3 linked regions of the Homo sapiens genome follow. The protein of the gene in region 1 purifies or fractionates together with the protein of each later gene. This does not show direct contact. Each region holds a gene or a part of one and is shown in the gene's direction. Other genes may lie near its edges.

Region 1 (3,652 bases):
CCGACTCTACTAAAAATACAAAAATTAGCCGGGTGTGGTGGTGAGCGCCTGTAATCCCAGCTACTCAAGAGACTGAGGCAGGAGAATCACTTGAACACGGGAGGTGGAGGTTGCAGTGTGCCAAGATCATGCCACTGCACTCCAGCCTGAGCAAGTGTGAGACTCTGTTTCAAAAAAAAAAAATCTTCTTGCCTTTACCCAGTGCTGTCTGCTTTTCTGGAGCCCCAAACCACCCCCTTTGCCCCATCCTTCCCTCCTGTCTTTCCCCCACCCCCTTGCCCCATCCTTTCCCCATCTGCTCCCTTCCTCATATTTGGCCCTGTCCTTAGGTGTCCTGTCAGAAGAACAGATCCGCCTGAAGAAACTGAAGCGGCAAGAGGAGGAACAGGCTCATGCCACATCCTTGCCCCCCAGGGCTTCCTCACCCCCCCAAATCCTGCCCCAGCTCAGCCCGGAACAACTGGGCATGATCGAGAAGCTCGTCGCTGCCCAGCAACAGTGTAACCGGCGCTCCTTTTCTGACCGGCTTCGAGTCACGGTACTTGACACACCTGGGGAGAGGCGGCTGCGCCCAGATCACCAGTGGGCTTCTTGATGTCCGACTCAAAGCGCTTTGCCTTTTCCCTCCTGGGTAGCCTTGGCCCATGGCACCAGATCCCCATAGCCGGGAGGCCCGTCAGCAGCGCTTTGCCCACTTCACTGAGCTGGCCATCGTCTCTGTGCAGGAGATAGTTGACTTTGCTAAACAGCTACCCGGCTTCCTGCAGCTCAGCCGGGAGGACCAGATTGCCCTGCTGAAGACCTCTGCGATCGAGGTGGCTGGAGAAGGGCAAGGGATGAAGGGAGAAGCAGAGTGGGATTATCTGTGGGAGGGGCCTCCAGACATCGAGCTGGGAGAGCCAAATCTGCTGGGAAGCAGGGATGAGGAGAATCGGCCTCCCTGGAAGAGGCCATGCTCCAAGACCAGCCCTCCTAGTCCCCGTTTGAGGTTTGCTGCTTGTGTGCAGGTGATGCTTCTGGAGACATCTCGGAGGTACAACCCTGGGAGTGAGAGTATCACCTTCCTCAAGGATTTCAGTTATAACCGGGAAGACTTTGCCAAAGCAGGTGAGAACTGAGATCACACAGGGATTGGGGTTGGGTGGACAGATGCTTCTTTTTTTATTTTTTATTTTTAAAAATTGAGGGCCAGGCGCGGTGGCTCATGCCTGTAATCCCAGCACTTTGGGAGGCCGAGGTGGGCAGATCACCAGGTCAGTAGATCAAGACCATTCTGGCTAACACGGTGAAACCCTGTCTCTACTGAAAATACAAAAAATTAGTCAGGCATGGTGGCACGCGCCTGTAGCCCCAGCTACTTGGGAGATCGAGGCAGGAGAATCACTTGAATCTGGGAGGCAGAGGTTGTAGTGAGCCAAGATCGCACCACTGCACTCCAGCCTGGGCAACAACAACAACAACAACAAAAATTGAGATAGAGTCTTACTATGTTGCCCAGGTTGGTCCCAAACTCCTGGCCTCAAGTGATCCTCCTGCCTCTGACTCCCAAAGTGCTGGGATTACAGGCGTGAGCCACCCACCATGCCCGGCCAAGTACTTTTTTTTTGTTTCATTTTTTTTTTTAGACAGAGTTTGCTCTGTCACCCAAGCAGGAGTGCAGTGGCGTGATCTTGGCTCACTACAACCTCCGCCTCCCGGGTTCAAGCAATTCTCCTGCTTCAGCTTCTCAAGTAGCTGGGATTAGGTGCACCACCATGCCCAGCTAATTTTTGTACTTTTAGTAGAGACAGGGTTTTACCATGTTGACCAGGCTGGTCTTGAACTCCTGACCTTAAGTGATCCATGTGCCTCAGCCTCCCAAAATGCTGGGATTACAGGCATGAGCCACTGAACCTGGCCAGGACTGGTGCTTTTTGTCAGAGGCCCATAGTGACTACAGAGCCACAGGCCCAATGTTTGGGTGGCTGGTAAGGGAAGGCTCCCTTGTTTTTTGAAGATAGAAAATTGGAATGCTGATAGGCTTCTCTCAGCTGCTCCAGATAGACCCCTGTCCTCTGTTGCTTTAGGTCAGTGGTTTTCAAACTGTATTCCAAGGAACCTGAGAGATATATGGAATGGCACCTTGGAGGAGAAACAGGGAGGCACAGGAATGTCCTTCATCTTTACTTTAGCCAAACAAGAAGCTCCATTTAAATCTGCATTATATATTGCACTGCTACATAGTATTTTGCTTGCAGATTTTACAGCTTGAAAAAAAAGTTTGAAACTCAGTGCACTCAACTTTTTAGTAGTCAAAAAGTGAACAAATCTTCCTCACATGTGCTCTTTGGGGATCATGGGGGCTGATTTCCCCTACTTTTTTTTTTTTTTTGAGATAAGTTCTTGCTCTGTCACGCAGGCTGAAGTGCAGTGGCATGAACGTGGCTCACTGCAGCCTCAACCACCTGGGCTCCAGTAATCCTCCTGCCTCAGCCCCCAAGTAGGTGGGACTACAGGCATGCACCACCATGCCAGGCTAATTTTTATATTTTTTTGTAGAGAGTGGGTTTCGCCATGTTGCCCAGGCTGGTCTCAAAATGGTCTCGAACTCCTGAGCTCAAGTGATCCACCCACCTCGGCCTCCCAATGTGCTGGGATTACAGGCATGAGCCACCACACACAGCCTCCCCTACTCTTTTTCTTTTTTTTTCTTTTCTTTTTTTTTTTTTTTGAGATGGATTCTCACTCTGTTGCCAGGCTGGAGTGCAGTGACGCGATCTTGGCTCACTGCAACTTCTGCCTCCCGGATTCAAACGATTCCCCTGCCTCAGCCTCCTGAGTAGCTGGGACTACAGGCGCGCGCCACTACGCTCAGCTAACTTTTGTATTTTTAGTAGAGATGGGGTTTCACTGTTTTGCCCAGGCTGGTCTTGAACTCCTGAGCTCAGGCAATCCGCCCGCCTTGGCCTCCCAAAGTCCTGGGATTACAGCCATGAGCCACTTGTCCAGGCCCCTCCCCTACTCTTTTTCAATTGCACTTTCTGACGAACCAGAACCATGGCATGGCAAACATGCCCAGAGAGGATGTACAATAAGAGCGAATGCTTCCATCTCCATCCTATATCTGAAGTATTTTCTCCAAAAATTAGTTCATTCTGCGGCTCTCTATCTGATGCTCGCTTGGGAGCTACGCAGAAGGGGTTTCTTCATATTCAACTATTGATAATGTTTGTATCATGAGAACTGGCCTGGGAAAGGACGGGAGGCTGAGGGAGTTTTGGAGGGACTGGAATTGAGCTTCAGCAGGAAACCAAGTAGCTTAACGACTGGATGAGTGGGGCTGTAAAATATGGCTGATGCCCTGACTCCACTCTCAGGGCTGGTAGATCTGTGGCCAGGCCAGTCATCAAGCCTTCCTTGGTTTCTGATAACTCAGGCCAGCTCACGTGCCTCTTGCTCTCCCAACGCAGTCCACCCAGTGAGCTTTCTAGGAAGGCCACTCTTCGCTGTAGGGCATAACAGGGCTATGTTGGCACCTTTTGCCTTCTATAGTAACCGGTGTGCTGCCTGGATGTATTGACACCTAATGGGGTGATTTAATGACTTTATCCAGCTTTAAAGCCCAGCCCTGCTCCCCTCTTCCAAACCACTTTTTCCTCGATGGTTATTATCT
Region 2 (3,652 bases), on another chromosome or scaffold:
ATAAACGAATGCAGAAGAGAAGACATTTAGAAACGAGTTTCCAACAGACAGATCCGTGTTGTACTTCTGATGCACAGCCACATGCATTTCTCCTCAGTGGACCAGCTTCACCAGGTAATAACATTTCTTGTCATTTACAAAGTTTATTATTTAGAGTGGGAAAAGTCTAATCCAAGTTGTCTTTAGTCATTTAAGCTACTGTATCTCCTCTGAGTTTTAAAAAAACATTTATACAAGTAATGCATGACATCTTAAAAAATAATATGGTACAAAATAAGGAGTTACCACTGGATTCCCACTAACCAGAGACAACCACCTGCATATAATATCCCCAAAGTGGACATCCTGTAAGTACTATGATTTGTAGCCTTTATTAAAAAAAATTAACAATAGGCCAGGCACGGTGGCTCATGCCTGTAATCCCAGCACTTGGGGAGGCCGAGCGAGGTAGACAGGTCACTTGAGGTCAGGAGTTTGAGACCAGCCTGGCCAACATGGCAAAACTCTGTCTCTACTGAAAATAGAAAAATTAGCTGGGCGTGGTGGCACGCGCCTGTAGTCCCAGCCCCTCGGGAGCCTGAGGCATGAGAATCACTTGAACCCAGGAGGCGGAGGTTGCAGTGAGCTGAGATCATGCCACTGCACTCCAGCTTGGGCGACAGAGTGAGACTTTGTCTCAAAAAAAAAAATAATAACAATACTGTATGCTCCTTTGTTAGGTATAGATGTACCTTGTCATGACTGAACACTTAATGATAGATAATTCAACTTAGAAGTTTTGCTGGTATAGTATTTTAAGAACTATCCCTGTATACATACCCTGCCTCACACACTTGTCTTATTGGGCTAGATTTCTAAAGGTGGATTATTATTATTTTTTGATCCTGTATCTGTTTTTACCTACTTTTTGTTGGGGGGAATGTTTGCAAATAACCTTCCTTTTTTTTAAAAAAAAAAAAAAGGGGGGGGGCGGGGAATAAGGGCTACTTGAAGCAAAGAGAAAGTTGAAGGTTTTGCTGAGAGAGAGCCATCAATAGTGGCTCTTATCTTTAGTAAAGTTCTCAGGAAAATAGCTTTTCTTGTGACAACAGTTGCCTTTGTTCAACGCTTTCTCTCCTCCCCCTAGCAAGGGAAGGAAAACCTGGCAGAATAAAAAAATTTGCGGCTGGGCGCGGTGGCTCATGCCTGTAATCCCAGCACTTTGGGAGGCCAAGGCAGGTTTATCACGAGGTCAGGATATCGAGAACATCCTGGCTAACACAGTGAAACCCCGTCTCTACTAAAATCCAAAAAATTAGCTAGGCATGGTGGCAGGCGCCTGTAGTCTCAGCTACTGAGGTAGGAGAATGGCATGAACCCGGGAGGCAGAGCTTGCAGTGAGCAGAGATCGCGCCATTGCACTCCAACCTGGGTGACAGAATGAGACTCAAAAAAAAAAAAAAAAAAAAAATCAAAGACCATAACATAGTCAAATAAAATTAGATTAGGAAACATGAACTTGTTCAAAACTAAATACTGCCATGCCCATTGTGGGGGCCAGGTATTAGTGGTTGAAACATAGAGGTGAGGGTTGGGCACTAGACTGTATTAGCAGGAAACCAAGATCATTATTTCCTTACTCACTTTACTTAGAAGATCAGTTAACTGGCAGTCTTAAGTAACAAAGCTGGGAATGTGAAAGTAAATTAAGATGGCTTTGGATAATTATGGAATAAAGCTGGTGGGCTTTGTTATTGTGGTATGCACAGTTCTAATAAGCATAGTTAACTAGCTCCTGCCATGCAGGTTATAAGGAGCAAGTTAAGAGAGTAAGTAATATTGGTGGTACCAGGGCAAATTCACAGAGCGAGATGAAGAAACAATTGGTAACGAATGGTGCACTTGAATATGTATAAAATACTTTTAGCAGTATTACAGTAGATGTTATTACTACAAAATATTTTCTCTTTTATTAAAAATATCCTAATAGGTATAAAAATGCTGAAGGAATATTTGAAATTGACAGATGCTGATGTTGCAGCTGCTTTGGGATTCTTAGTGTGATGACAGTGTAGTTCTATGGTATAGAGTTTTGAGCATAGCATTATCAGCTCAATGCTTGAGCTTATTTTTCCATGCGAATTGTTGTTAACTTAATGGGAATTAGTGGTCAATGAGTTCAAAAACCTTTAGAATCATTTATGCTTCTCCAGCAAAGTAGATTTCAGAATGTCTTGTTTTGTTTTGTTTTGTTTTTGAGACAGGGTCTCACTCCGTTGCCCAGGCTGGAGTACAGTGGTGAGATCTTGGCTCACTGCAACCTCCACCTCAGCCTAGCCTGTAGCTAGAACTACAGGCACGTGCCACCACTCCCAGCCAATCTTTGTATTTTTATTAGAGACATGGTTTGCCATGTTGCGCAGGCTGGCCTTTAGCTCAAGGGTTCCACCTGCTTCGGCCTCCCAGAAAGTACTGGGATTACAGGTATGAGCCACCACACAAGCTAGGTTCCAGAATGTTTTTTAATCTTTTCTAAAAAGGATTCATGCTGTACCTTCTTTTTTTAAACATAAAAATTTATTGTGCCAACATGAAATTTCTTTTTTTTTTTTTTTTTCTGAGATGAAGTTTCACTCTTGTTGCCTAGGCTGGAGTGCAACGGCATGATCTCGGCTCACTGCAACCTCCGCCTCCTGTGTTCAAGCGATTCTCCTGCCTCAGCCTCCTAAGTAGCTGGGATTACAGGCATGTGCCACCACGCCTGGCTAATTTTGTATTTTTAGTAGAGACTAAGTTTCTCCATGTTGGTCAGGCTGGTCTTGAACTTCTGACCTCAGGTGATCCGCCTGCCTCGGCCTCCCAAAGTGCTGGTAATACAGGCGTGAGCCACCATGCCCGGCGTATTTTCTTTTTCAATAAAGGAAAACCCCTTTCTAAAGGTGTGAAATGATGGTAGAATAATTACCAGTTCATTGTGTGTAGGCTCTTAAGATATTAATGGTATGGCTTTGAAGACTAAGTGTCTTTTTACAGGCATAATGATTTGTTATTCTGGGACTAAATAAAATTAAATTTAGACCTGAGGTGTTCTTCATTCCTAGTGTAGGAAAGTAATTTAGTCACTAAAATACTTCATGGTATGGTATTTTCCAGAAAGGAGATAAGATGTTTTGTAATGGGACCCATCATTGTAATGTTTAAGTTTTATGTCTTTTTTAAATTTAATTTTTAATTTTTTGTTTTTATTTTTTTGAGATGGAGTTTCACTCTCTTTGCCCAGGCTGGAGTGCAATGGCGTGATCTCGGCTCACTGAAACCTCCGCCTCCCGGGTTCAAGTGATTCTCCTGCCTCAGCCTCCCGAGTAGCTGGGATTACAGGTGCCCGCCACCATGCCTGGCTAATTTTTTTATGTATTTTTAGTAGAGGCAGGGTTTCACCATGTTGGCCAGGCTGGTTTCAAACTCCTGACCTCAGGTGATCCGCCCACCTCGGCCTGATTACAGGCGGTGAGCACCACGCCCAACCTTTCTTATGTCTTAAAGTTTTTTCTACTCACCTTTAGTCTTTTTTATCTTAATTACATCTTGCCGTGTTTTTCCAGCGTCACCAGCTGATGGAATTATTATTTTGGTTGTTTTAAGACTTGTGAAATGCTGTGCTTAAAATCTGATT
Region 3 (3,652 bases), on another chromosome or scaffold:
AGCTTTACCATGGATTAGAGATTCAGTATGTTGGGGGTGGCAGTTCTCCCACATTAATCCACAGAACCATTGAGATGCCATCAAAATCCTGGTAGATTTTTTGTGAGACTGGATGTGCTCATTTTAAATTTGGCGTGGGCCCTATATTGTGAGAATGGGCAAAATACTCTAGAAAAACATTGCCTTCTAGATATCAAAGGACTATCTAGAAGATATGAGTAGAAACAAACCCATGATTCTATGAACATTGATCAATGAGAGGAAGTCTTACAGAGCAATGGGGAAATGTTAGGAAATGTTGCTGGGACAAGAGGTATCCATGGGGAGAAATGAATTAGAAATCGGACCCTACCCACACCACACAAAAGCAAATTCAGAGTAAACACCTAGATGCAGGGGAGGGAGGATTGCTTGAGCCTAGGAGTTTGAGACCAGCCTGGGCAACGTAGCAGACCCTGTCTCAAAAAAAAAAAAAAAAAACAACCCTAAAACCTAGATGTGGAAAGGAAAATTAAAGATTTTAGCAGAAAATACACAATATCTTGTGTAAGGAAGGAGTTCTTTAAAAATAGGTCATCTGCTGGGTGTGGTGGCTCACTCTTGTAATCCCAGCACTTTGGGACGCCAAGGCAGGGATGACTGCCTGAGGCCAGAAGTTCAAGACCAGCCTGGTCAATATAGCGAGACTCAATCTCTACAAAAAGTTTTTGGCTGGGTGCAGTGGCTCACGCCTGTAATCCCAGCACGTTGGGAGGCCAAGGTGGGTGGATCACGTGAGGTCAGGAGTTCAAGACCAGCCTGGCTAACATGGTGAAACCCTGTCTCTACTAAAAATGTAAAAATTAGCTGGGCGTGGTGGTGCGTGTTTGTAATCCCATCTACTTGGAAGGTTTAGGCAGAGAATCAGAGAACACAGGAGGCAGAGGTTGCAGTGAGCCGAGATCACGCCACTGCACTCCAGCCTGGGCAACAGAGCAAGACTCTGTCTCAAAAAATAATAATGAAAAGAACTTTTCAGCTGGACACGGTGGCTCATACCTGTAATCCCAGCACTTTGGGAGGCCAAGGTGGGCAGATAACCTGAGGCCAAGAGTTTGAGACCAGCCTGACCGACATGGCAAAACCCCGTCTCTACTAAAAATACCAAAATTAGCCAGGCGTGGTGGCACATGCCTGTAATCCCAGCTACTTGGGAGGCTGAGGCAAGAGAATCACTTAAACCCGGGAGGCAGAGGTTGCCATCAGCCAGGATTATGCCATTGCACTCCAGCCTGGGCAACAAGAGCGAAACTCCGTCTCTGTTTTGAAGTACGTAACAATAACCTTTTCTCTTCATGTGCTTTTTAGCTCAGGTTCAGATTGAAGGAGATTTTTTGCCATGTTCCTTCTCTATACTTGAGGAACAGCCCATGGACATGCTTCTGGGACTGGACATGCTTAAACGGCACCAGGTAATTAAGAGCTTCACTTATTTTTTTTGCATCTGCTTTTTGTAATATGGTCATTATCACATTATTTTTATTGGTTACATATACTGGAAAACTAAGAAATAACGACTTTTCAAACCTGGAAATGTCCTTAAATTATGTTGCTATACAGAGGTTGAAATGATGTGTCGATATAGATAGAATCTGTTTTTGTGAAATCTCTCTGTGAATCTGTTAAATCTTGCCAAATGTTTTGAGATTGTAAAGGACAGTTTGGTTCCCTTGTATAATTTTCAGATTCTGGTTAGATCCTGATTAGTAGTTTTTTGATGACCTGACTAAAAAGTGTGAGTCAAGTAAGTCTTTAGCATTCTCTGATGCTGATCAAACAGTACTTGGGAAGAAGACCTTCAAGGTTAAGGAAGGTATATGTTGGGAGTGAAAGTGTTTATTTAGTACAGGGTGCATAATTAATATATTAATTTGTGTTGATATTTATCTTTCTACTCTAAAGCACAATAATTTGAGATATACTGCCGTCGTTGAAGAAGCAGTTAGTCCACTGGGTATTTAGATGAGATTAGGCATGCTCAGGGTGGTATGGCTGTAGACCTCACTGGGTACTTCACATTTTTCACAGTAGGGTTTTATATCCAGTCAACCTGCCAGGTACAGTGGTACATGCCTGTAATTCCAGCATTTTGGGAGGCCAAGGAGGGAGGATTGCTTGAGGCCAGAATGAGTTTGAAACCAGTCTGGGTAACTTAGTGAGACCCTGTCTCTACAAAAAGTACAAAAATTAGCTAGGCGTGGTGGTACATTAGCTACTCGTGAGGCTGAGGCAAGAGGATCCCTTGAGACCAGGCTGCAGTGAGTCAAGATTGTGCCACTACACTTCAGCCTGGGTAACAGAGCAAAACCACATCTCAAAAAACAAAATTGAGTTAAAAACAATTGAAAATATAGCTAATCAATATTTTTATGTCACTATTTTAAAATATTTCTGTAAAAGTAGATGCATCATATTGATAATAAGACACAGCATTCTATTTATTTATTTATTTATTTATTTTGAGATAGCGTCTCGCTCAGTTGCCCAGGCTGGAGTGCAGTGGTGCAATCTTGGCTAACTGCAAGCTTCGCCTCCTGGGTTCACGCCATTCTCCTGCCTCAGCCTCCCGAGTAGCTGGGACTACAGGCACCCATCACCACGCCCGGCTAATTTTTGTATTTGTAGTAGAGACGGGGTTTCACCTTGTTAGCCAGGATGGTCTCGATCTCCTGACCTCGTGATCCGCCCGCCTCAGCCTCCCAAAGTGCCGGGATTACAGGCGTGAGCCACCACGCCCGGCTCACAGCATTCTAAATAGAACGAATGAATGAATGAGTGTATGTATCAATAAAACCTTGTCACTGCCTTTCCTTATTTTTTTAGTCATGGTATAGACCAGCAGTCTCCAACTTTATAGATGTAAATCATATATGTGCACAACTGTCTATTAAGTAGTTATAAAATACACAAAAAAGGAAGTTAGCATTAGCATGGAGTAAAGAATACTGTGGAGATTGCCTTGCGTGGCACAATCTTGGCTCACTGCAACCTCTGCCTCGCAGGTTCAAGTGATTCTCCTGCCTCAGCCTCCCAAGTAGCTGCGATTATGGGCATGTGCCACCACGCCTGGTTAATTTTTGTATTTTTAGTAGAGGTGGGGTTTCACCGTGTTGGCCAGGCTGGTCTGGAACTCCTGACCTCAGGTGATCTGCCCTCCTCAGCCTCCCAAAGTGCTGGGATTACAGGCATGAGTCACCGTGCCTGGCCATTTGTGATTGGAGTTTTAAATTAAGGAGCATAATTTTTCTGCATGGTGTTTTATCTGCTATTATTCTTTGGTTTCTTTCTTCCAAGTGTTCCATCGACCTGAAGAAAAATGTACTCGTGATCGGCACCACAGGCTCCCAGACCACCTTTCTTCCTGAGGGAGAGCTACCAGAGTGTGCCCGGTTGGCATATGGGGCTGGAAGAGAGGATGTACGGCCAGAGGAGATTGCAGACCAAGAATTAGCAGAAGCCCTTCAAAAATCAGCAGAGGATGCAGGTATTTGGGATGGCCAAACTCTTCAATACTTGTTATTGATGGGTAAGCCCGGGAAGTGTGGGCTTCAGAAGGGGTAGGAACCTTTCCAGTTTTTAATTAGTCTCATGGTCCAGTAGTAGATGTGTTCAT

The links.
Region 2: the proteins of NR1H3 (region 1) and AKIRIN2 purify together in Homo sapiens (affinity purification with mass spectrometry; one large-scale study listed by BioGRID and IntAct). This does not show direct contact.
Region 3: the proteins of NR1H3 (region 1) and DDI2 purify together in Homo sapiens (affinity purification with mass spectrometry; 2 studies listed by BioGRID and IntAct, with this or other methods). This does not show direct contact.

The regions. Positions count from the first base shown.
Region 1 is NC_000011.10:47,260,912-47,264,563, forward strand, and holds part of NR1H3 (oxysterols receptor LXR-alpha), read left to right. Parts: intron 1-329; coding exon 330-538; intron 539-635; coding exon 636-815; intron 816-1,007; coding exon 1,008-1,107; intron 1,108-3,652. UniProt on the Homo sapiens protein: Nuclear receptor that exhibits a ligand-dependent transcriptional activation activity.
Region 2 is NC_000006.12:87,678,082-87,681,733, reverse strand, and holds part of AKIRIN2 (akirin-2), read left to right. Parts: coding exon 1-114; intron 115-3,652. UniProt on the Homo sapiens protein: Molecular adapter that acts as a bridge between a variety of multiprotein complexes, and which is involved in embryonic development, immunity, myogenesis and brain development.
Region 3 is NC_000001.11:15,648,373-15,652,024, forward strand, and holds part of DDI2 (protein DDI1 homolog 2), read left to right. Parts: intron 1-1,347; coding exon 1,348-1,451; intron 1,452-3,333; coding exon 3,334-3,523; intron 3,524-3,652. UniProt on the Homo sapiens protein: Aspartic protease that mediates the cleavage of NFE2L1/NRF1 at 'Leu-104', thereby promoting release of NFE2L1/NRF1 from the endoplasmic reticulum membrane.